4 linked regions of the Homo sapiens genome follow. The protein of the gene in region 4 purifies or fractionates together with the protein of the main gene of each other region. This does not show direct contact. Each region holds a gene or a part of one and is shown on either strand. Other genes may lie near its edges. The genes, in order: BCAP29, CYB5A, HACD3 and ARHGAP15.

Region 1 (6,009 bases), on a different chromosome or scaffold from region 4:
TTCTTGTCAAACCAGAAGTTCCATGAGTCTTAGTAATCACCATGTTTTTCCAGTTGTTACTGAGCTCAGAGAAATTGAGTGACTTGTCTAAGATTATCTAGCTACTTCTTGAAATGCCCCTTCTTGCACAGAGTATGTTTTCCCTCAGAATTCCCTCAGAGTTGTTGTGTTGTTGGTTAAATAGGATTTAGAGAGGCGAACTTGGGACCCTAACCGCCATCTTTGACACTGTTTTGTGAGAAAATGTCTTCCATGTTCCAAACCACCAATCTCTCAAATAGAATCCTCTTTATAAAACTAAGAACATCTGGTATGAGAAGGGATGGTATTGTCAAAAACAGAAAGGTGTGAATGATTTGTGCCTCTTTTCAAGATGTAAATATTTGTCTCATGGTACATTATTAATGTTATGGATTGAATCTCTAGCCATATAACTAGTTATGAGAAGTCAGTAAAGAACAATAAGGAAAACCGGTTCCAGTTCTGCCACCAGCTAACTAAAGGACCTTTGAAATGGCTTTTATTTCCTGGGTTTGATTTATTCATCTTGTGAAATAAAGGGAGAGATGGAAAGAATCTCTGCAGCTCCTGATTTTATGATCTTCTAACTCTAAAATTATCACAAAAATTTCTATTGAAAACTGTCACTTATCATGTAAGGGAGGGGAGTTGTAGTATAAGTTCTTTTGGTTACATTAGAAACAAACTTGGCCGGGCGCGGCGGCTCACCTCTGTAATCTCAGCACTTCGAAAGACCAAGGCAGGTGGATCAACCTAAGGTCAGGAATTCCAGACCAGCTTGGCCAACGTGGTGAAACCCTGTCTCTACCAAAAATACAAAAATTAGCCGGGCATGGGGGCGCGTGCCTGTAATCCCAGCTACTCAGGAAACTGAGGCAGGAGAATTGTTTGCACCCGAGAGGCAGAGGTTGCAGTGAGCCGAGATCGCGCCATTGCACTGCAGCCTGGGTGACAAGAGTGAAACTCCGTCTCAAAAAAAAAGAAACCAACTTGAACTCGCTTGACTAAAAAAGGAAAAATTTGTAATAAAATACGGGGCTGTTGCAGAGTAGCCCAAGAAAGGAAGGAAGCCAAATTCCAGGGAGGGATTAGTACTTGGAACTGAAATGTCCTTTTCTTGGCCATATACATTTTTCCTATATATACTTCATTCTTTTTTATTATGGACTCTGATATTCTGTCTATCTCCAAGGCAGTAAATGGGTACCACACAGCTGCCAGGTGTGGTACCCATTCCAGACGTATGCAAGGGTTAATTCATCATCTCTGAATCCCAATTCCACATCAAAGGAAAAAAAATTGGACCAGCTAGTACCAGTTATCTACTCCTCATCTCCTATAACCAGGAAGGTCACAAGGGAGAATCATGACTGCTGGCTGAAGCCTGCATCTTTGGGTAAACAGGGCAATTAATTCCCAGAGAACAAGGACATCATGGATAGTTAAGGCAACCAGATAGGTGCTTATCCTCTAGGTCTCCATCCAAAATGGAGTAATGACACCTACTTTCGTGTTTTAAGATTTAAACGCAGTAACATATGTAAAGTGCAGAGTCTGATGTTCGAGTCCACAACGATGTAAATAATGCAAAACCAGTGGATTACTCATGCTTAATTTATATTTTACTTGGAAATTTATTTCCTTTTTCTTGGTTATCTCTCTAAATAAGGTAACTTTTTTATACATTTTCTTTTTATATGTATTTATTCTTTTTTTTTTTTTTTTTGTGACGGGGTCTCACTCTGTCACCAAGGCTGAAATGCAGTGGTGCGATCTCAGCTCACTGCAACCTCCACTTTCCAGGCTCAAGTAATTCTCCAGCTGCAGCCTCCCAAGTAGCTGGGACTACAGGCGAGAGCCACCAACCCCTGGCTAATTTTTGTTTTTTTTAATAGAGACAGGGTTTTGTCATGTTTCCCAGGCTGGTCCCAAACTCCTGAGCTCAAAGCGATCCGCCCACTTCGGCTTCCCAAAGTGCTGGGATTACAGGCATGAGCCACTGCACCCAGCCAAAATAAGGTAGCTATTAAGAAGTGTTTGTATTCTTAGAGCCAACACTAACTGAGTGTGTGCATACAAGTGTGTGTGCATGTGTGTGTATTTTAGGTGCTGGTAAGAGACAGAATGGAAGTGGGAATTTCAAGAGTGTGTTTAGTGTTAGCAGAAATGCATCCCAGGAATTTGAAAGTTTCCATAACTGATCTAAAATTGGATCATCTTCAGGTGGTTTATAGAAAATTGACTATATGTCACATCCTTCCCTTATTGTTGACTCCATTCCATTTTTCAGACATAGTTACCTTTTTAGTATACAGGTGATGTATTCTACAGGTATGTTTACATGACCATTGACATTAATAAACCTTTTTAATATTATTGGTTAATCTTCAGCTTTTCTGCATAATGGATTCAGGAGTATTATTCCCATTTAATTACCAAGGAAGATGAATCACGAAGCATAATGATCCTTCATAGTACTCACTATTTGCCTATTTAAAATAAGTCGTAAATATATATTATCTTTGTTGGTTTTTTGGTAGTGGTTGGCATGCTCTTACTATATTATTGAGGCAATCTGAGAAATGACAAAGGGGAAATAGCCATTAAGATACAGGAAATTTTCTAAAGATCATTTAAGAGACTACTTTATATAACTATGCAAATAAATTGGAAAACCTAGATAAAATGTATAATTTTGTAGAAAAATATGATTTACCAAATGAACACCAGTAGATATAGAAAATTTAAGCAGACTAATTTATATAGAAAAATTATAGAAAGTTATCAAAAAGGACCCCTATTTGAAAAAAAAAGCAAAAAACCAGATAGTTTTATAAGAAACCCTACTGCTTTCAGAAAACAGATATTACTACTGCTTCTTAAACTGTTCTAGAATTTAAACTTCAAATTGTACAGAGCTAGAAAAAAGCAAGCTGTAGAATTGAAAATAAGTCAGAACAAATGAACTGAATAGTACATCAGATTGCAATATATAACACAGAGAAAAATAATTACTCTTGAACATAGTACTCTTAACTTTTTACCTCGCTGGTAGGGTACATTTTAAGAACCAAGAGGATTACAATGAAATCTGAAACTTTATAATAGTTTTATTGTTGGTAATTTAAAAGCTGTTTTATGTATAGTGCAGCATCAAGCAAATTAGTATGTTCATGGTATTAGAAACTAAGACTTTCAGGAATAGATATGGCATACAAATATAAAGTCAAAAATTAAGGATTTTTTAAGTTTTAGAGTGATTTATTTGGGTTTTATTTTGGAGTATGGAAATGTGGAACTAGATAGAGGTGGTAGTTGCACAGCATTGTGAATATACTAAGCATGACTGAATTGTTCACTTTAAAGTGTTTACTTTTATGTTATATGAATTTTGCCTCAATAAATTAAAACAATTTTGTTAAAGACATAGGAGTCTGGCTTTGTTCATAGCAAAACGGGTTGTATTAGACTATTTCTCCTGTGTTAAAAATTATGAACCCTCGATAAAATACGAAAAAAGGTATTTGAAGGCCTTGTAGAGCAACCAAAAGCAGGCAGAAACTAGAGGGACGTCAACCCTTAAAAGAAGGGAATCATACTGGGTGTGATCACATTTATATAGCCTTTCTTCCAACCGCTTTCCAGTCATGTGGCATAGACAACGATATAGAACTCAAAGCAAAAAGACAGTCTTAACTGACTTAAGGGGTCAGAGGTCAGATAGATTCAAAAATAAGAAGGATGTCTAAGAAAGGAGAGAACCCAAAAAGGGAACCCCAAAATCCACATGTAAACTCCCCTTAAATTCTTGGTTGACTCTTCAACCATGGATGTGTAGGAAAGATTCCAAGGAAATCAATGAAAAGGAACAGCCAGCAAAAAGCAGCAAGGCTGAGAAGAAATTTTGGCTGCTGGCCACCAAGGAGAGACAGAGTTTGGAGTATGAGCCTCATCACGTTAGAGGGGCTTGGTAAAGACCTTGAACCTTTCCACTAAAATCACAGAAGGGCTACTCCTTAGGAATAGAGACTATATCCCAGGAATTAGAAATTTACTATAACTAAGGCCTAAAGCAAAATAGACTTACCCTAAAAAAGTATAAAAATCAAGCCTCTCTAAACAGCTGTAAACTGTACATCAGCAGTCCCCACCCTTTTTGGCACCAGGGACCAGCTTCATGGAAGACAGTTTTTCCATATGCAGGAGCAGGGGATGGTTTCGGGATGATTCAAGCACATTAAATTTATATGCACTTCATTTCTATTATTATTACATTGTAATATATAATGAAATAATTATGCAACTCACCGTAATGTAGAATCACTGGGAGCCCTGAGCTTGTTTCCTACAACTGGACATTCTCATCTGGGGATGATGGGAGATGGTGGCAGATCATCAGGCATTAGATTCTCATAAGAAGCATGCAACCTAGATCCCTTGCACGCGCAGTTCACAAAAGGGCTTCCACTCCTATGAGAATCTAATGCCACCACTGATCTGATAGCTTGGGCAGTAATGTGAGCGATAAGGAGTGGCTGTAAATACAGATGAAGCTTTGCTCACTGGCCTGCCAATCACCTCCTGCTGTGCAGCCCAATTCCTGACAGGCCGTGGAGCAGTACAGGTGCATGGCTCCAGGTGTTGGGGACCCCTGCTGTACATAATCTTTGCAAGGGCACATGAATATACTAAACTCTCTTCACCAAGATACACTATATTCTGGGCCATAAAACAAGTCTCAATAAATACAAAGGATTGAAGTCCTACCAAGGATTGGAATCATATAGAGTATGGGGGTTTTGTTTTTGTTGTTTTATAGAGACAGACTTTCGCTTTGTTGCCCAGGCTGGTCTCAAACTCCTGGCCTCAAGTGATCCTTCCTGTTCCCAAAATGCTGGGATTACAGATGAGAGCTACTGTGCCCAGCCCCTACAGAGTATGAAAATAGAAATCAGTAACAGAAATCTGGAAAACCTATACATGTTTGAAAATTAAACAAGACTTGTTAGTAATCCTTGGGTCAAAGAACTCACAAAGGAAATTAGAAAATATTTTAACTGAACAATAATGAAAATACAATATATTAAAATTTTAAGATGCCATTAAAGCACTGCTTAAAGGAAAAATTATAGATTTGAATATTTATTTTTAAAAAAGATTTAAAATCGGTGATTTTAGTTTCCACCTTAATAATATCTACCCATTATATTGAATATTGACAGTGAAAAAAATAATATTCACTCAGTTGTTTTTTAAAGATTTAGAAGGAAGATTTCTCATTCTGATGAAGAGCTACAAAAAACCTCAAGCTAGCATCATACTTAAATATCAAAGTCTTCCCCCATAAGATTGGAAACAAGGCAAGGATATTTACACTCTGTTTATTCATTTGAGTAATAGATGTCCTAGCCAGGGTAATAATAAGTCATGAAAGAAATGAAAGGCTTAAAGATTGCAAAGAAAGAAGTAAAATATCCTTATTTGCAGATGACACGATTATTTATATAGAAAATCCTGGCCTGGCACAGTGGCTCACTCCTGTAATCCCACCACTTTAGGAGGCTGAGTTGGGCAGATTGCTCAAGCTCAGGAGTTGCAGACCATCCTGGGCAACATGGCTAAACCCCGTCTCTACCAGAAAGTACAAAAATTAGCCAGGCATGGTGGCTCATGCTTGTAGTCCCAGCTACTCAAAAGGCTGAGGTGGGAGAGTTGCTTGAGCCCAAGAGGTCAAGGCTGCAGTGAGACGTGATCACATCACTGCACTCCAGCCTGGGTGACAAAGCGAGACCCTGTCTCAGAAAAAAAAAAAAAAAAGAAAGAAAGAAAGAAAGAAATAATCCTAAAGTATCTACAAGAAAGTTATTATGTCAAAGAAATTAATATAGTGGGGTCACAAAATACAGGTGGGTCAGTATACAAAAATTCAGTGTATCAGTAATTGTATTTCTATACTATAAGCAGTAAACAATAGGCAAATGACATTTT
Region 2 (6,009 bases), on a different chromosome or scaffold from region 4:
GAGTGCCTTTGCAATGATACGTGTAAGCTGAGAGAATGGACAGTTGCGATGCCCTCTCATGGTTCATGTGTTTTTAAGTTGCTGATGTTTTTCAATCAGTGAAGATAAGAAGTCTCTCTTATAGGCCCTGTAGGCTACTTTCTTTTTTTTTTGAGACAGAGTTTCACTCTTGTTGCCCAGCTGGAGTTCAACGGCGCGATCTCAGCTCACTACAACCTCTGCCTCCTGGGTTCAAGCAATTCTCCTGCCTCAGCCTCCCAAGTAGCCGGGATTACAGGCATGCGCCACTACGCCCTGCTAATTTTGTATTTTTAGTAGAGACAGGGTTTCACCATGTTGGTCAGGCTGGTCTTGAACTCCTGACCTCAAGTGATCCACCCACCTCAGCCTCCCAAAGTGCTGGGCTTACAGGTGTGAGCCACGATGCCCAGCCGCTACTTTCTTTTTAAGATCTATTTCAAGTAGGACAATTATTAGAAATCCTTAAACTATAATTTCTGGCCTTTCTTAATTTCCTTGAAAAAAAGAAACTATATCGGAAGCATACAATACATGGTTACTCAATGAGATGTGACGATGTGAAAGGAGACACTCAAACCTATTTCCCGCACCTCCAGTCATATGGCCTCTGTGGGTCTGGATGAGTAACACATTGAAGGAATCCTCTAAATAACCAGATTCTAAACATTAAAGACAATTATACACCAAACAGGCAAACACGGTGCATACTTTAAAAGCCAAATATATTTTTAAAAGATCATGCTTATAATAAGTAAATTACACATTAAGGAAACATCAAAATAAAGTAGATGAATAAAAAGGCACACTCGAAAAATTTGAGCGCAGAAAGGACAGTTCTTTTTGTTTTGTTTCTAATGTCGGAAGAAAAAGAAAGAGATATATTAAAATCATTGTTTTCAAGTGAAGGTTTCTGTCAGTTGAAGTAGTTAGCAATGGCTTCTTTTCTCCCGTGTCCAAAGCAGGCTCTTCCTGCGCTGACTTCTGAGGAGGTGTTCAGTCCTCTGCCATGTATAGGCGATACATCAAGGCGACGGCCACTGCAGAGATGGCAGGGATCACCCAGTTGGTCCACCAACTAGAAAGACACAAAAAGCAATGATGCTGACATGATGTGCACTGTGGTGGACTCAAAATCTTTGCTCCTTCTAACAGAAAATTACCAGGGCATGTTTTTCTTAACTCTGTAATGAATTTTGCTGAAAAGGCAACGTGGATTTGCTAAAAGTGACATGAGTGTAACACATGCCCTGCTATACTAGGAATCACTCTGCCCTGCTGGCTTTATGAGAAAACTCATGCCCCACTTGGCTGGGCTCAGTGGCTCACGCCTGTAATCCCAGCACTTTGGGAGGCCAAGGCAGACGGATCACTTGAGGTCAGAAGTTTGAGACCAGCCTGGCCAACATAGTAAAAACCTTCTACCAAAAAATACAAAAAGTAGCTGGGCGTGGTGGCAGTAGCTAATTGTAATCCCAGCTACTTGGGAGGCTGGGGCAGGAGAATCGCTTGAACCTGGGAGGCAGAGGTTGCAGTGAGCCGAGATCACGCCACTGCACTCCAGCCTGTGTGATAGAGCGAGACTGTCTCAAAAACAAACTAACAAAAATAAACAAACCAAAAAATGAATGCCCCACCAGCTGTAAAGTTGAAGAGTATGGGCCCTGTGATGATTAACACTGCCATTAACACCACAGCTTTAAGCTTAGGTTTGGAAAATCTAATCTTTACTACCTGTGCTGAAGTGGATTTAAAGGGTTAAGAAACAGAATGGCCAGACTACTTGGTGTGTGGTCCACAGGTCTAAATTCACCAAAAAAAAAAAAAAAAAAGCCTAAATTTACAGTCCTGATGCATAGAATTTCGATCTATAAATTACAGATTACAAATCAAATCAGGGACAAAGGAGGGATGAGCTATAATTTCTATTTGAATCTTTTTTTTTTTTTTGATACAGAGTCTTGCTCTGTTGCTCAGGCTGGAGTGCAGTGGCACGATCTTGGCTCACTGCAAGCTCCGCCTCCTGGGTTCACACCATTCTCCTGCCTCAGCCTCCCGAGTAGCTGGAACTACAGGCGCCCGCCACCATGCCCGGCTAATTTTTTTGTATTTTTAGTAGAGACAGGGTTTCACTGTGTTAGCCAGGATGGTCTCGATCTCCTGACCTCGTGATCCACCTGCCTCGGCCTCCCAAAGTGCTGGGATTACAGGCGTGAGCCACCGCGCCTGGCCTCTATTTGAATCTTTAAATTAGATTTGAATCTTTAGATTTTGATCTTTGACTTAATTTCTTAGAAAAATGGAAATTAATGTGTAGGCTTTAGAAATAGACTTGGTATACATATGTGTTTCATAGGGACTACAAGTATAATCCTTTCATAAGGATTACAAGTGAAACTTTCATAAGAATTACAAGTGTAACTTTTGTCTTAGTGGGGTTTGGTGGGGTTTTTCAATTTCACTTTAGAAAGAAACTGGCTTGTTAATGAAGAGTAAGGTGAAATACTGCCTGCAGGCAGGGAATATTCCAGAACACCAACGGACTGAGGCAGTTAAATTTGACAGGATGAAATACAAATGTGTGGTTTTGAGCTTGGGTCCAAAAAAGTGGCTACTACTGAAGTCAATATGGTAGAGCTGCCAAAGATGTTAATGTGCACTTGGACTATCATAAACAAATCTGGTGCCTAGAACAATTGAGTCGTGCTACACATAGATTACCAGCTTCAACTTTAAAGCTAATAAAAATGACAAAGGAAAACTGACCCATGTTTAGGGAAATGTAATCACTAGAGTTTAAGAAACAGACATGGATTGAAAGGAAGGAAATGTCTGCTTGGATGAGCCAGGGAGGTGCTGTGGGACTGGCCGCCTAAGATGCTGCCCTGGGGGAAAAGGAAATGCAATTGTTCTGTTTGTTCCTTGGGGTGGATGCAGCCAGCCAGCTAGATCACGTGGCTGTGGACAGTGTTCACAGTCGGCTACCTGAAAGTTTGAGGCTGAGTGCTCTGAACAGTCTGGCCTTCAGCAGAAGGTTGCTGAGACAGCACAGTGTCAGGCCCAGGAACCCAGAAGGTGGGGGACGCACCTTGTCCAACCTGGACCCATGAGCCCTCCCACCCACTACTGCTTTAAAAGAAAGCTACCACATACCTGGAACTAGAATCAATAGTAGTGATAAGAGTTTCCTGAAACACGAGAGGAAAAAGTAAAGTAAGTTCAAGGGAATGCTGAACTTATTTCATTGACTAAAATCCTGTTTGAAAATAAGAACACAATATTTTATGCAATGCATTCTTCAGAAGATGTCGAAAGGGAAAATTATAAACTTCTTTTCACTAAAATGCCTAACTTTGTTTTCTTCCAGAGTAAAACATTTTAATCATTATATTTACTTAAGGACATAACCTCAATAATTTAAAAACATTCAAAATTAATATGCTACATAAAATATCTTGCACACGCTAGGCATCTAAATAATGCAGAAACTGAAAACAGACATTCATGTTCACATACACACAATCCCACGTCACCTTTAGAAAAAGCAGTTTAATTCTTCAAAAGCATGAACACAATGTTCAATAAAAACATCAGTTATTTCATTCAAATCTGACAGATGTAAAAAAGTGTACCTAAATTACATTAAATATATGTGAACCAAAAAGAAAAAAGAGGACTGCCATTTTAAGTTCTACATTCTAGGCCAACTTTCCCGGGGGGCTGCTTTAATTCTGACCAGACGGAACCAGCAAGACACCAGACCAGCCTCACAGGACTGCTGTGCCCGGCGTCACACTTGTCACCAGCTGGTCACTGTCAGCCTAACAGCAAATCCCCAGATAAGGAAGCCCTGTTTTTATCCTCCAGAGCTTTCTGGGAGCAGCTCTTTTGAGTAGCACTAAAGTGAATGGACAATGGTTCTGGAAAAACGCATACTTCTCCAACAGCTGAAAAGCTAAGGTCTAGTGAAATATCAACTTTTTGGGGCTTGAAAATGGGTTAAGAAGCATTCTTTTGATGTTCCACACCAACATAAGCATTAGGGCCTCAAACAGAAGTTGCCATAAATAAGACAGCTTCAGATCTGCAGTTTCCCAAAGCAAAGATAAAAAGCATTAGCAAAACAATCAGCGGCCTGCAGTAAGGCAAGCATCACTCTGCAAAGCACGTTAGAGAAACTCCCGTGAAAAGACAGACCCCTTTCAGGGAAAAGCAAGCAAAGCAGTTATGAGACCCACCAACCTTGAAACACCGCCTTTAAGGTTCCTGACACAGTAGGGGAAAAAAGGTAAGTCATTTAAAAATAAAATTGCAAATTTATTATCTATTCCAGCAATTTTAAAATCTTAGCATCTATAAAAAGTATTCATAACTACAGCAAGAGGATTTTCCAAATTGTGTATATATGAATAAAATTAACAAAAATTACTAGAAATAATCAAAATATACAAAAATATTAGTTAGCTATTAGAGGACACAATCAGTTCTGAAACAAAAGAATCACTGAAGGTAAAATATGATTGTCAAACTAGAAAGTTAAGTTTGAAACAGCCAACGGAAGGCAAACACAAACATCCACGGCGTCGTTAAAATGAGGGCAGGCATTTCACCAACGTGCTGACAACTCTGGAACCTCCCACCTGCCCTCCTGCTGCCTTTGTGGTTACCATGGGAGAGCGCTAAGGTTAAAACACTACTCTGGCACCAGCATCATCAGCAACAGCCATGAACTCTAAAGAGGGGAACTTGAAATAATCGTATCACCTTTTGATTGTTGATTATCTTCTTGGCTCTGTAGCCCAGGATGCTTGACAGTTAAAGGAAGTTTGAATTACCACTTTGCACTTTGATGGAAAAGTAATTGGTCTTTAGTGGTCAGTGCTCTGAGGGCCTCACTTGGGTTTAGGGACGTGACTATCAAAGAATGTCAGCAATGAACAAGGAGAAAGAATATGGTTTTTATGATTGGCTCTGCCACCTGTTCACTCCATGACTTCGAGGTTCAACTTCAGTAAAAAGAGGTTAACAATTAAATCAGTGTGTCAAAGTCTGGGCATGGTGGCTCAGGCCTGTAATCCCAGCACTTTGGGAGGCCGAGATTGGCGGGTTGCTTGAGTCCAGCAGTTCGAGACCAGTCTGGGCAACATGGTGAAACCCTGTCTCTACAGAAAAATACAAAAATTAGCTGGGCACAGTGCTGTGTGCCTATGGTCCAGCTACTCGGGAGGCTGAGGTGGGAGGATTGCTTGACCCCGGGAGGTGGATGGTGCAGTGAGTCCAGATCCATGCCGCTGCATTGCAGCCTGGGCAACAGAGTGAGACCCCGTCTCAAAAAAGTAAAATAAGTATGTCATGCATAATGACTTATAAAAGTCATGTGAATCAGTGTAAATTACAGTAAGCTCCATAAATTATGAAAAGCATGCAAAGCCCAACAAGCTTTTGTGAATCAGAGTCATCTCATTTATAAGTTCATCTAACGTAAACTTTAGTGGGAAGCCTATCTCCCTTAAAATACTGACAGAGTGATGTCTAACACGGCAAGCCCAGAACCTAGAGGAGAAGCTTAAGGGACTGCAACTGACCAGCCTGAGATGGGTGCTAGATGGTTCTGGAGCACGTCTGTGAGCCGGGTGCTTAACACTTCCCAGCTGCAATGTACCTACCTCCCTTGGCAGGTCTAACATGGAGACACTGTGAGGACCAAATAACTTCTACAAGAATGCTTTCAAAACTATAACCAAGAAGGGGTATTGCTACGACTAATATTCTCTATGTAAGCAAATGTGATAGAAACATTTATGTTAGATTAAAATGCATGATTTCTAAGTCTACAAATATCTTAATTTGGTAACTTAACACTATGCTTTCCTTAGGGCAGGTTCAAGCTAATAATCTTTACTGCATTTTATTTCACTATTCAACTAGATATTTTAAGCAGGCAACATCTCAAAACTTTAGACCACAGTGTACATTCTTCAACCTGGAGAT
Region 3 (6,009 bases), on a different chromosome or scaffold from region 4:
TCGCCAGGCTGGAGTGCAGTGGCATGATCTCAGCTCACTGCAACCTCTGCCTCCCAGGTTCAAGCGATTCTCCTGCCTCAGCCTCCCAAGTAGCTGGGACTACAGGAACATGCCACCACGCCCAGCTAATTTTTGTATTTTTAGTAGAGACACCGTTTCACCATGTTGGCCAGGATGGTCTCGATCTATTGACCTCGTGGTCTGCCCACCTCGGCCTCCCAAAGTGCTGGGATTACAGGCGTGAGCCACCGCACCCGGCCAAAACAGATATTCTTATTTTCCCTTCTTTCTATACAAAAATTAGCATACAATATACATTCTTATACATCTTGCTTTTTTTTTCACCTAAATAAATCCTTATCAGCTCATAAAGACCTTACTCTTTCTTGTTATAGCTGTATAATACTCAATTGGGTGTATGTAAAAGTTTGTATCATCTTCTAATTCCCCCTTTTGGGGACACAGACAATTTCAAAGAATACCAACCAACTTGAGGTTACTATGAGACCATGGTAAAATTAAACAAAACAAGACCATTGCATAAATTTGTCTAATGACAGGTCACTATGCCAACCACAAAATACCAAATCATAGAACTGTCCCTGCTTTCTGTCAACATCCAATCTATAGCGGACCCCACTTCCTTAGACACCCCCGCCATCACATAATCAAAGCCCAAATCCTATATAACAAGGTCTTTTTTAACACCATCTTACTGAGATACCACATGTTTCCCTACGATGTGTGTTTTCCCTCACTGGAACAAGCAATAAACCCAACTTATTTAACTACAAGGTGTGTTTTGGTGATCTTTGGCTGAACAGCATTAACAGTTTAAATAAACTCTCAGAGAGCTCTTTCAATAAATTAAAAATACTCAAAGTAATAAGAAAGCTTGTATCACAGTATAATCAGCAGCATTTTTCCCCTCATCATGAGGGAAAAAAATAAAATAGTGGTGCATTTTACAATCAATTAAGTCTAAGATACTATAAAATTCTATTTTCACCCAGACTACTGCCCTGAACTCTGTATTTGTATAGTTATATCACTAGTTCACATTTTCACATGGAAATTGTTTATAACAAGACTCTCAAACTAGTATGTCCAAAAGGGGACTCTTGATTTTGGCCCCTAAATCTCTTCTCCAGTCTTAATCATTTCAGTTGTCATCTACTCTGTGCTTAAGTCAAAATCTTAAGACTAGTCATTAATTCTTTTCCCTTCCTCTCCAACGAGTCCATCAAGGCCTCAAGGTTCTCTTCAGATATATCTCAAATGTGTCCATGGCTTTCCACCTCCACAACCCTAAACTGAGCCACCTCATCTCTTACCCATACTACTATAACAGCCTCCCTAAATGGTTTTCTAGAGTTCACTTTTGCCCCTTTATAATCCACATAGCAGCCAGAATAATCTTTTTTGAAACACAAATCCTACAAAGTCACTTCTCTGCTTAAAACTCTTTAATAGTTTCCCATTGCTCTTACAATAAAACCCAAGCTCCTTACCATGGCAACAAGGCTCTACATGACCTACATCTTGCAAACCCTTCTATCCTCATCTCCCTCTAACTTATTCCTCACTACACTCCAAACATACTAATATCCTTTCTGCTCCTGGAACCCCACTAAGCCTTTGCCTGCCTCTAAGTCTGTGGACTTGTTGGAATGTTCTTGCCCCAGCTTTCTGCACCATTTGTTTTAACTTTCAAGTTTCACCCGGCTAGAATATCACCTCTTCAAGGAAGCCTTCCCTGACCACTCTATTTAAAATAGCCTCTACCAATTATTCTCTATTTCATCACCCTCTTTATTTCCCTCATAGCACTTTATCTAGGTAATTATTTATTAACATATCTATTGTCTGTCTCCCTCAATCTGAAGGTAGTGCCTTTATATGTGTTGCTCATTACTGAATATCTAGTACTTAGCACTGTGCCTGGACCATTGTGAGTGGTCAACAGTTACCAGATTATTTAACTTACTGCTTTATAAGTAGTTTTTGTACTGTGGTAATAAACAGCTTAGACTTATTGATTTCTATTATTAAATATTTCAAGCAAAATCAAACAGAAAAATATAGCAAACACCACTATATCTAACATCCATTAGCATTTTGCTTTATTTGCCTCAATTTTTAAAAAAAGAAATAAAACAGAAACAGATACATTATACAATTTCTCAATCCCAATGCCCTCTCCCTCAAACATGCCCCAACTTCGCAGGTAACCACTACTCCAGGATTGGAGTTGGTCGTTTCCACTGTATTTATTTATTCATTAAAACACGTTGGGCATTCACAATATACAGTATGATTTGACATGTCACAAAAATAATTTCATACTGCCTATATCATTCTTCAACTTGCTTTTTATTTGATATTATATTTCTAAGCTTTAATTCTATAAAGATGGTTCTGTTTCATTCATTGTAGCTGTTGTACAGTGTGCCATTGTATAAATATACCACAATTTATCCATTCTTCCAGCTGACAAAAATTGAGGCTGTTTTCAATTTTTTGCTGCAATGAACATTCTACCTCCACCTGCATGTGTAAGAGCTTCTCTAAAAAGCAAAACTTCCAACTCATAAAGACATACAACTTCAGCTTGACAAGATAGTGTAAAACTGTTCTCCAAATCAATTGTACCAATTAGTACTTCCACCAACTGTATAAAAAAAGTCCGGCTGGGCACGGTGGCTCACGTCTGTAATCCTAGCGCTTTGGGAGGCCAAGGCAGGCAGATTACTTGAGGTCAGGAGTTCGAGACCAGCATGGCCAACATGGTGAAACCCCATCTCTACTAAAAATACATAAATTAGCAGGGCATGATGGCGGGCGCCCGTAGTCCCAGCTACTCGGGAGGCTGAGGCGGGAGAATCACTTGAGCCCAGGAGGCGGAGATTGCAGTGAGCCAAGATTGAGCCATTGCAATCCAGCCTGGGGTGACACGGTGAGACTCCATCTCAAAAAAAAAAAAAAAAAAAAAAAAAAAGTCCTGTCACTGAACATTCTCAGAAACACTTGGTCATGTCAGGCTTTTTCAATTTTCCTACTCTAATGTGAGAAACAGTATCCTATCATTTTAATTTACAGGCATACCTTGGAGCTATTGTAGGTTCTGTTCCAGACCACCACAATAAAGCTAATATCACAATAAAGTGAGTCACACAAAGTTTCTGGTTTCCCAGTATATATAAATGTTATGTTTATATTATACTATAGTCTATTAAGTATGCAGTATTATTCTAAAAAACAGTGTACATACCTTAACTTTAAAATATTTCATTGCTAAAAAATGCTAATGATCATGTGAGCTTTCAGGGAGTTGTAATCTTTTTGCTGGTGGCGGGTCCTGCCTCAATGTTGATGGCTGTGGACTGATCCAGGTGGTGACTGCTGAAGGCTGGAGTGGCTGTGGCAATTTCTTAAAGGAGGACAACAATGAAGTTTGTCTCATTGATTGAGTCTTTCCTTCACTAAAGATTTCTTTGCAGCATGCAATGCTGTTTGATACTGTTTTACCCAGAGAATAATTTCTTTTAAAATCAGAGTATACTCTCAACCCCTGCCACTGCTTTATTAACTAAGTTTATGAAACAGTATAAACCCTTCATTGTCATTTCAACAATGTTCAGAGCATCTTCATCAGAAATAGATTCCATCTCAATAAATCACTTTCTTTGCTCATCCATAAGAAGCAACTCCTCATCCCTTCAAGTTTTATCATGAGATTGCTGCATTCAGTCACACCTTCAGGCTCCACTTCTAAGTCTAGTTCTCTTGCTATTTCTACCACACCTGCAGTTACTACCTCCACTGAAGTCTTGAACCCCTCAAAATCATCCATGAGGGTTGAATTCCACTTCTTCGAAACTCCTGTTCATTTTTATATTTTGACCTCTTCCTATGAATCACAAATGATCTTAATGGTATCTAGAATGGTGAATCCTTTCCAGAAAGTTTTCAATTGACTTTGCCCAGATCCATCACAGAATCACTACCTACGACAGTTTTAACCTTACGGAAAGTATTTTCTAAATAAGACCTGAAAGTCAAAATTATTCCTTGATCCATGGGCTGCAAAAGGAATGTTATGTTAGCGGGCATGAAAACAACATTAATCTCCTTGACATTTCCATCAGCACTCTTGGGTGGGACTAGGTGCACTGTCAATGAGCAGTAATATTTTGAAAGGAATATACATATATATATATATATATATATATATATATATATATATATATTTTTTTTTTTTTTTTTTTTTTTTTCTGAGAAGTTGGCCTCAACAGTGGGCTTAAAATATTCAGTAAACCATTCTGTAAACAAATGTGCTATCATCCAGGAGTCGTTGTTCCACTTACAGAGCATAGGCAGAGTAGATTTAGCATAATTCTTTTTTTTTTTTTTTTTGAGACAGAGTCTCTCTCTATTGCCCAGGCTGGAGTGCAGTGGTGCGATCTCAGCTCACTGCAACCTCTGCCTCCCAGATCCAAGCGATTCTCCTGCCTCAGCCTCCCAAGTAGCTGGGATTAAAGGCGCCCGCCACCATGCCCAGCTAATTTTTTTTATTTTTTAGTAGAGACGGGGTTTCGCCATGTTGGTCAGCCTGATCTTGAACTCCTGACCTCAGGTGATCCACCTGCCTCGGCCTCCCAAAGTGCCGGGATTACAGACATGAGCCACCATGCCCGGCCGATTTAACATAATTCTTAAGGGCCCTAGGATTTTCAGAATGGTAAAGGGGCACTGGCTTCAACTTCAAGCCACCAGCTGCATTAGCCCCTAACAAAAGAGTCAGACTGTCCTTTGAAGCTTTGAGGCCAGGCATTGACTTCTCTCTAACTATAAAAGTCCTCCACGGCATCTTCTTCCAGTAGAAGGCTGTTACATTGAAAATCTGTTGTTCAGTGCAGCCACCTTCATCAAGGATCTTAGTTAGATCTTCTGGATAACTTGCTGCAGCTTCTACAATCAGCACTTGTAGCTTCACCTTGCACTTTTATGTTATGGAGCCTTTCCTTAAGCCTCATGAATCAACTTCTGCTAGCTTCAAATTTCTCTTCTGCAGCTTCCTCACCTCTCAGCCTTCATAGAATTGAAAGAGTTGGGGCCTTGTTCTGGATTAGGCTTTGGCTTAAGAGAATGTCGTGGCTGATTTATATTCTATCCAGACCACTCAAACTTTCTTCATATCAGCAATATGGATATTTTGCTTTCTTATCATTTGGGTGTTCACTGGAATAGCACTTTTAATTTCCTTCAAAAATTGTTTCTTTGCATTCACAACTTGGCTGCTTGGTGCAAGAGGCCTAGCTTTCAGCCTGTCTCAGTTTTGACATGCCTTCCTCACTAAGCTTAATGATTTCTAGCTTTTGATTTAAAGTGAGACATGTGCAACTCTTCACTTTAACACTTAGAAGCCACTGTAGGGCTTGTTTGTTTGTTTTGTTTTTGAGACAGAGTCTCACTCTGCCACTGGAGTGCGGTGGCGTGATCTCAGCTCACCCAACTTCAGCCTCCCAGGTTGAAGTGATTCTCCTGCCTCAGCCTCCTGAGTAGTTAGGATTACAGGCACCCGCCACCACACCTAGCTAATTTTTGTATATTTTTAGTAGAGACGGGGTTTCACCATGTTGGCCAGGCTGGTCTCCTGACCTCAAGTGACACACCCACCACAGCCTCCCAAAGTGCTGGGATTACAGGCATGAGCCATCACACCCGACCCCATTGTAGGGTTATTAACTGGCTTAATTTCAATATTGTTGTGTCTCAGAGGAGAGGCCCAAGGAGAGGGAGAGAGATGGAGGAATGGCCAGTGAGAGCAGTCAGAACACATACATTTATCGATTAAGTTCACCATCTTATATAGGTGCATTTCATTTTGCCATAAAACAATCACAATGGTGGCTGGGCACAGTGGCTCAAACCTGTAATCCCAGCACTTTGGGAGGCCGAGGTGGGCAGGCCACTTGAGCTTAGGAGTTCGAGACCAACCTCGTCTCT
Region 4 (6,595 bases):
ATACAGCTGTAAAAAAGAGAATTAGTTCCTTAGTTTTGTTATAAAATATCTCTAATCTATATTTCTAAAAGAAAAAAAGCAAAGTGGAGAGGTGCGTGCAGTTATGTTATATACATACACACATAGATGTGCATATATATATGGTTTTTACATAAACTGTGAAGTATAAATATATATATTAAACATGAAAAGTGGTTACGTTGGATTAAGATGGGGATAAATGGGATAGATAGAAATAAAAATATAAGAAATAGCTTATCTAAAAACATTGTGTTTTGGTTTTATATTGATTTTGAACCATCTCACTATATCATCTATTCTTAAATTAAAAGCAAACAAAACAAACAAAAGGCCTTCATCAAATGAAAAAAAAGATTGTTATAACCATAACTTGAATAAGAACCTCAGGCACCTGAACAGGTAAGTCAGTGCCTGTCCTTACAGAAATATCTCCACTGACTTCAAACTCTTCTGCAAAGAAAATGTCACTTCACAGTGAGATAAATGGAAGAAACAAATACATCCTGACCCTAGACAGACAACCCATCAAGATGTAAAAGTGTGGACATCCAATTACGTATCTCCCCTGCTCAAAAACCCTGCTGTTACTTATATCCAGGTCTACTCTATTTATGATCTCACACTATCTTTCTGGCCTACCTCTTATTACTATACTTCTGTCTAACAAAACTGGAGAATTCACACTACTTTGGAATTCTCTGACACGCCGTGTTTTTGTGCCTTGACATATTTCCTTCCTGTCCCTTGCAATGTTTCTCATCTTCCCAGTGCTAGATTTCCCTGAAAACTACCACAAAACTTTCCTCCAAAACTGTCCAGAACTCCCTGAAAGTATGTGATCAGATGATACAACACTTACAAAATTCTCTAGTTTATGGCTCGGCAAATAACAGGAATGCAAAAATGCTGGATGAATTTCTGAACTCTAATAGAGCATTCTCTGTATCTTCTTATGGTACTTGACAAATTGTATTTGCATCATAATTATTAAAATAATAGTCACTCTGGATTATAAGCTTTTAGAAGGCAAATGTTGTGAGGAGTTGTCAAACATACAGTAGCTGTTGAAAAATATTTTAAAATTTAGTTTAATTCAAACTCATGTTTCAATCAGATCCGCCTTTCAATTAAAACTGTATTTTTGTACAATTATGGAATTTGAAGAAGTTGGGAAATAATGACTGTTTAAAATGTGACCATACGTGACTCCGTAGTAGAATTTTGAGGCTTTTGTCCTTTCTTCTGGGGAAAGCATTTTAATTTCTACATCAGGAGACCCCTCTTTTTAGCAGAGAGCCCAAGTGCTGCAGCTGTAGCTGCCCCCAGTGCAGGAGTGGGCCTGTGAGCTAGGCATGGTCACGCATGCTGTCTGCACCCAAGTTCAGTAATTGTTCAGCTATGGTCATGTGATCCAATTCAGTCCCATCAGATCTAAATCTGACACTTTGCTGTGGTGACTGGGGAAAAGCATTCTTTCCCCACAGTTTGCTGAAAGGATCAACTCAGTAGGAGCTTGACAATTTCGTGAGAGCTTCCACTAGAGACTGCTTACAGCATAGTGAAAAGAAGAGCTGAGGAATGAAAAAAATGAGACCTACTCCTGATAATCCTGTGTGAGCTCCTGGATCCAGCCATTCCTGACTTTGCTATCCTTAGACTTTTCACACATAAAAGAATATCTCTTTTGCCTAGGCTAGTTTGAACTCATTTTCTATCGTTTGCCAACAAAGAAGTTTTGCACACTCTAAGCTCAAATTTAGAATACTTACAAGGGCATTTTAAAGTCTAATTATGTAGCATTTATTGTACAGTGTAAAAAATATGCTTTTAGTATCCAAAGAATTAAATTCAGAGTGTTCAATGACTTTTAAAATACATCTATTAAAAACTAATTATGTTAAATAATTTCTAAGTGTATGGGAATATCAAAATTGCCTGAAAATGTAGTGCAATATTTTTTTTTTTTTACCTGCTGCAAGAAAGGTGTTTATTTCTTCAGGACTATCTTAAAGAAATGGATACATCACTGGGATGGATCCTTCATATGAGACACTTCCAGAAATTCTGTGTTTAAATGCCACAGGCAGGACCAATGGTTAACAAAACACTCTCCCTCTAAAGTCTTCCCCCAACCATTTACCATGGCATCAGTCTCCTCACTTGAGATCCAACATTTAGCTAATCCTTTGGGCCCTGTCTGCTGAGGAAACATATTAAAATTCCACTGGGGGGAGAAAGGGAGGCCTGGCTAGGAAGTCAAAGCTCTGTAGCCTTCTCCTATAAGCGTGGATTATTTTTATTAGATTCCCTAAGTGCTGGAAAATGGGATGAGTACATTTTAAAAGTTCAGTTGAATGGAAGGAGCCAGTGAATGGAAGGGTCTATCTTTCTAGGTACCAAGTCTATGGGACTCTAAATTAGGAGCAGAGCAGGCCGCTCCAGAAGAGAATAATAAAAAGGAGCAACAGGAGGAATATCAAGGAAAGAGTTTCTCCTTTCTGAATCTTACTGAATGCTGGCCCTAAGTGGAAAAGCACGACATTCTTTGAGCAAATTAGCTTTAATATGACTTTCCAAATAAAATCTTCCGTATTATTTTCATTTCATCAAAACTTGTTTCTGACTCATCCACTTAAAACATATAAAGTAATAGAATTCTATAGTAACTTATTTGCAATTAACTGTCTTAAAATTTGGTTTGTACCTTACTGCTCTTTACAAACAATTCTGAAGGTATTTTAATTTACCTATCATCTTTACTCATTGATCTTTCTAAATTCATATCAAGCTCTCTTCAATTCATTCTTAATTTTACACATATTCCATAAAATATGTGTATTTTAATTTAACAGTTTCTGCAAGAAACACTCATTTTTACAGTGAATTTCTTTTTTAAAAGCATTAAACAATTTAAAAAATTTTCATGGACTTTTCCTCAATGCCAGATGTTTATCTGCATATTCATTCTTGCTAAGGTGTAAGTATTGCATGTGTTTATTCATTTGATATTCTTTTATAATAAAATGAAAGAAAGTAATAACATATCAACCAAAATTATCAGAATTATACAGCTTCTATAGATGCAGAGGTTCAGAACCACGATATTGAAGACAGATTTAAATAATGCTTTCCATTGTGAGGAAATGCAACAAATTGAAAATCTAATCACAATATCAAAGCAAATATATATTACCAGGGTCTTCTTACATGCTAACAATAAAAAATGTATTGAACACCAAGTCCTAATCTCTATTTTTCTGTGATCATTTTAATAGTCAACAAGTAGCTAGCTTCAGTATTGACAATTGAAGAGGTCTTAAAATGGAGTGTACTACTATGCCTAATAATTTCCTACTAAATTGACCATGTCAAAAAACATTTATGTGTGTCTTTCAATAGAAGACAATAAAAGAAAAGAAAATTGTTGCCACTTATCAACCCTGTAACCATTTTTTAATAACACAAAAAATAGGTGTTGTGGGGGCCATCACTTCTCCCATCCAGCAGCACAATAAAAATAATATTAGGGAAGAATGGATCATATCTTGGGCTGTTATTAAAATTCTTTCAAAAATCTACAGTCAGATTTATTTTAGGTATTTGTCTCTGAGATTAGCAATATTTTGATGTTTTCTGCACATATGTTACAGCACACAAAGACATTCTGTAAAAGCAAGAAGTCAATATAAAAGAAAATTACATGTCAGTTTAGGACTAACAAATCCTTTTCATTTCTAAGGTTTATTATTTTGGAATATTTCAAAGAAGGAAAATTATATAATTACATAAATAACAAAAGTATACCTCTAATTTGCCTCTCCTCTCAGAGTAACCTTCAATGAAATCAGCTGTGACTTCTTTTTTAAATATAAAAGTTTGCTTATGAATTAGAAACTTACACTCATTTCACCCTATATCTTAAATGAAATTTAGAAAAAAAATTTCAAGTGTCATGATAGACAGTATTCCTTTACATTTTAAAAGCTCCTTGCTTTTTAATTAGCTACATAGTAACCTTTTTAAGGGTTTTTAGTGCTAACATTAATACAATGCTTTAAAGTGAGTATCTTTCACACTGAAATTCAAGCTATTTCTCATTGTTATACCCTTTTCTCTTTCCTTATCTGGATGTTGAACAATACATATTTTTATAAAACAGTTGGTTAAAGGTGCAAAGTCTCACATTATTTCTAGTAGTTATTTTTAAATGCACTTCAAACTAAAACTTTATAACTTATTCTGTCTTTAACATTTTAGTACAAAATCTTAGCAAATCATCTTATTATTATAACATTTTAGTAAAAGACATTGGAATTTGACAGCTGCAAATATGAAAAGAACATTCTTTTCTACATCAAAGGAAACCAGCCAATGTTTTAATCACAGGTAAAAGCGTCATATTTTGTAGAAATGTTTATATGTTCACACCAAAATGTAGGAAACTCTGCCGAACATGTTCAAGTTTAAATTTCATGTACAATATAAAGTTAAAACTTACCTTTTCTCGGCAATGACCTGTTATTGAAACTGCCATCAACTCCTAACTGTTAATGACTCTTTCAACAAAAACGGAAAACAGTAAAGTCACATGTCGTAAGAGTAGGCCTGTGTTGGATGCTGCTTAATTTCAGTACTGGGGGAAGAAAAAGGCGGGGGGTGGGGTGAGCACAAAACTTTTAAATAAAACCACTTCCTGGGTAGAGACAGTTAACCACACACATCACATCATTACTCAATTTGAAGAAATTGCCTTGTATAGTCAACAATATTGTTATTTTTCAATGTTATTATCAATTGTCAAACAAGACACATGTATAGAGATTTTATCAATTTTAACTTAAGGGAGGAAAATGTGTGATTAAAAATTCATCAGTGGGAGGAGCAGACTGCTAAGCACTGAAGAAACTTCCTCTTTCTCTGCCTTCTAGCAAGGGCTGAAAAATGAAGCGTCTACTCTGCTGGCTACGCTTGAGATGCTCCCATGCTATCAGGACACTCTGCATATTGACTTTGGAAGCAAGGAAGCCACCTCCAATTCACAGAGCTGGTGCCTCTGCCTCATTCATGAAAGGACCCACCAAAACCTGATCCAGTTAACAGGTTCATCAGGCCTTGGGAGGGTTGCATTAGAACTTCAGAAAACACAGCCCAGAGCCACGCCGCCATCTGAGCATCTGGGGAAAAGGCAGGTGTTCATCATGCTCGTCGAACACACCCTGTGGCATTTGCTGTGACTGTGGCTCTCATACGGATGTGTCCACTCTGGCAATTTCCTAAGCAGTTCTGAAACCTGCTGAAGAGCTTTTGCTCTAGCTGAGTGATTCTTTGTGTGGTCTGACTTAAAAAGAAAAAAAATATATATTATAATAAAGGATCCAAACAATATCATTTTGGCATGCTGCTGAATGCCCTCTTGTGTCAAACTTCAACAAACCCAAGACATATTTGTAAGGGGTCTCAGAAATAACTCTAGGATGTGCATCTTTATTGAGCCATGGAGTTCAAGAATAAGCTCCTGGATTTTCAGGCTTGGCTGGTTTTGTGAGATTTGCAGCTTAATCATAAAAGGAAGAGAGGAAAAGCTTTCCTTCCAAATATATGAGAGAGTTAAATCACAATCTCTTGTCATACAAACCAATTAGACTAGAAATCTGTGTAATAGAGCTCAGTGGTATAGAATGTTTGGCATACTAAAAGTCAATCTTTAAAAATAGATTTGGTGGATATGGCCCAAGTTAGGGATGGCATGTCCCTATCAGTTAACTGAATTTCTCTGGGATCTTTTTCTAAAAATCACATTTCAGATTGACCCTAGAATTCACTGTCAGTTCTCATTTCAGGAAGGACCTTTTTAAGTGTTTAGAGTCCTGAAGATTTGTACTGAATGCTTCTCCTTAACACCGAAGAGAAAATGGAAAGTTCATAATATTAAAAGTGAGGAAAGCAGAATTCCGGGCTTAATTCTGACACTGCTATTCACTTAACCTTGGCCAAGTTACTTAAGTTCTCTGAAATTTAGTTCATTTATCCATGTAATGAAACATCCGCATAAAAAAATCCATCTTGGGGAACACGATAAGTAAATAGATGTATATATTTTGTATATCATAAGGAATTGTAGATATATAAATTAGCATGAGCTGGGAAATGTTGATAACTCCTAAGAAGCATCAGAGAACTTCAGTACATTCTGCTTGATTTAAGCCTTTGTAAATCTGAGTTAGACTCAGAAGTCTAGGACAAGGAAAATAAATTAGGCCTTTCCTTGTTTTTGTTTGCTTGTTTTTACGGAGTCTCGCTCTGTTGCCAGACTGGAGTGCAGTGGCGCGATCTCAGCTCACTGCAAACTCTGCCTCCCGGGTTCAAGGGATTCTCCTGCCTCAGCTTCCCGAATTGCTGAGATTACAGGCATGCACCACCATGCCCAGCTAATTTATGTATTTTTAGTAGAGACGAGGTTTCACCATGTTGGCCAGGATGGTCTCTATCTCTTGACCTCATGAGCCGCCCGCCTCGGCCTCCCAAAGTGCTGGGATTACAGGCGTGAGCCACCACTCCCGGCCATGCCTTTCCT

What was found.
Region 1: the proteins of ARHGAP15 (region 4) and BCAP29 purify together in Homo sapiens (affinity purification with mass spectrometry; one large-scale study listed by BioGRID and IntAct). This does not show direct contact.
Region 2: the proteins of ARHGAP15 (region 4) and CYB5A purify together in Homo sapiens (affinity purification with mass spectrometry; one large-scale study listed by BioGRID and IntAct). This does not show direct contact.
Region 3: the proteins of ARHGAP15 (region 4) and HACD3 purify together in Homo sapiens (affinity purification with mass spectrometry; one large-scale study listed by BioGRID and IntAct). This does not show direct contact.

Annotation. Positions count from the first base shown.
Region 1 is NC_000007.14:107,584,999-107,591,007, forward strand, and holds part of BCAP29 (B-cell receptor-associated protein 29), read left to right. Parts: intron 1-6,009. UniProt on the Homo sapiens protein: May play a role in anterograde transport of membrane proteins from the endoplasmic reticulum to the Golgi. May be involved in CASP8-mediated apoptosis.
Region 2 is NC_000018.10:74,252,570-74,258,578, forward strand, and holds part of CYB5A (cytochrome b5), read right to left. Parts: intron 4,285-6,009; coding exon of another isoform or gene 4,276-4,284; exon of another isoform or gene 3,370-4,275; intron 3,207-3,369; coding exon 3,172-3,206; intron 1,097-3,171; coding exon 1,015-1,096; 3' UTR 1-1,014.
Region 3 is NC_000015.10:65,536,200-65,542,208, reverse strand, and holds part of HACD3 (very-long-chain (3R)-3-hydroxyacyl-CoA dehydratase 3), read right to left. Parts: intron 1-6,009. UniProt on the Homo sapiens protein: Catalyzes the third of the four reactions of the long-chain fatty acids elongation cycle. This endoplasmic reticulum-bound enzymatic process, allows the addition of two carbons to the chain of long- and very long-chain fatty acids/VLCFAs per cycle.
Region 4 is NC_000002.12:143,127,391-143,133,985, reverse strand, and holds the start of ARHGAP15 (rho GTPase-activating protein 15), read right to left. Parts: upstream 4,568-6,595; 5' UTR 4,556-4,567; coding exon of another isoform or gene 4,520-4,555; intron 1-4,519. UniProt on the Homo sapiens protein: GTPase activator for the Rho-type GTPases by converting them to an inactive GDP-bound state. Has activity toward RAC1. Overexpression results in an increase in actin stress fibers and cell contraction.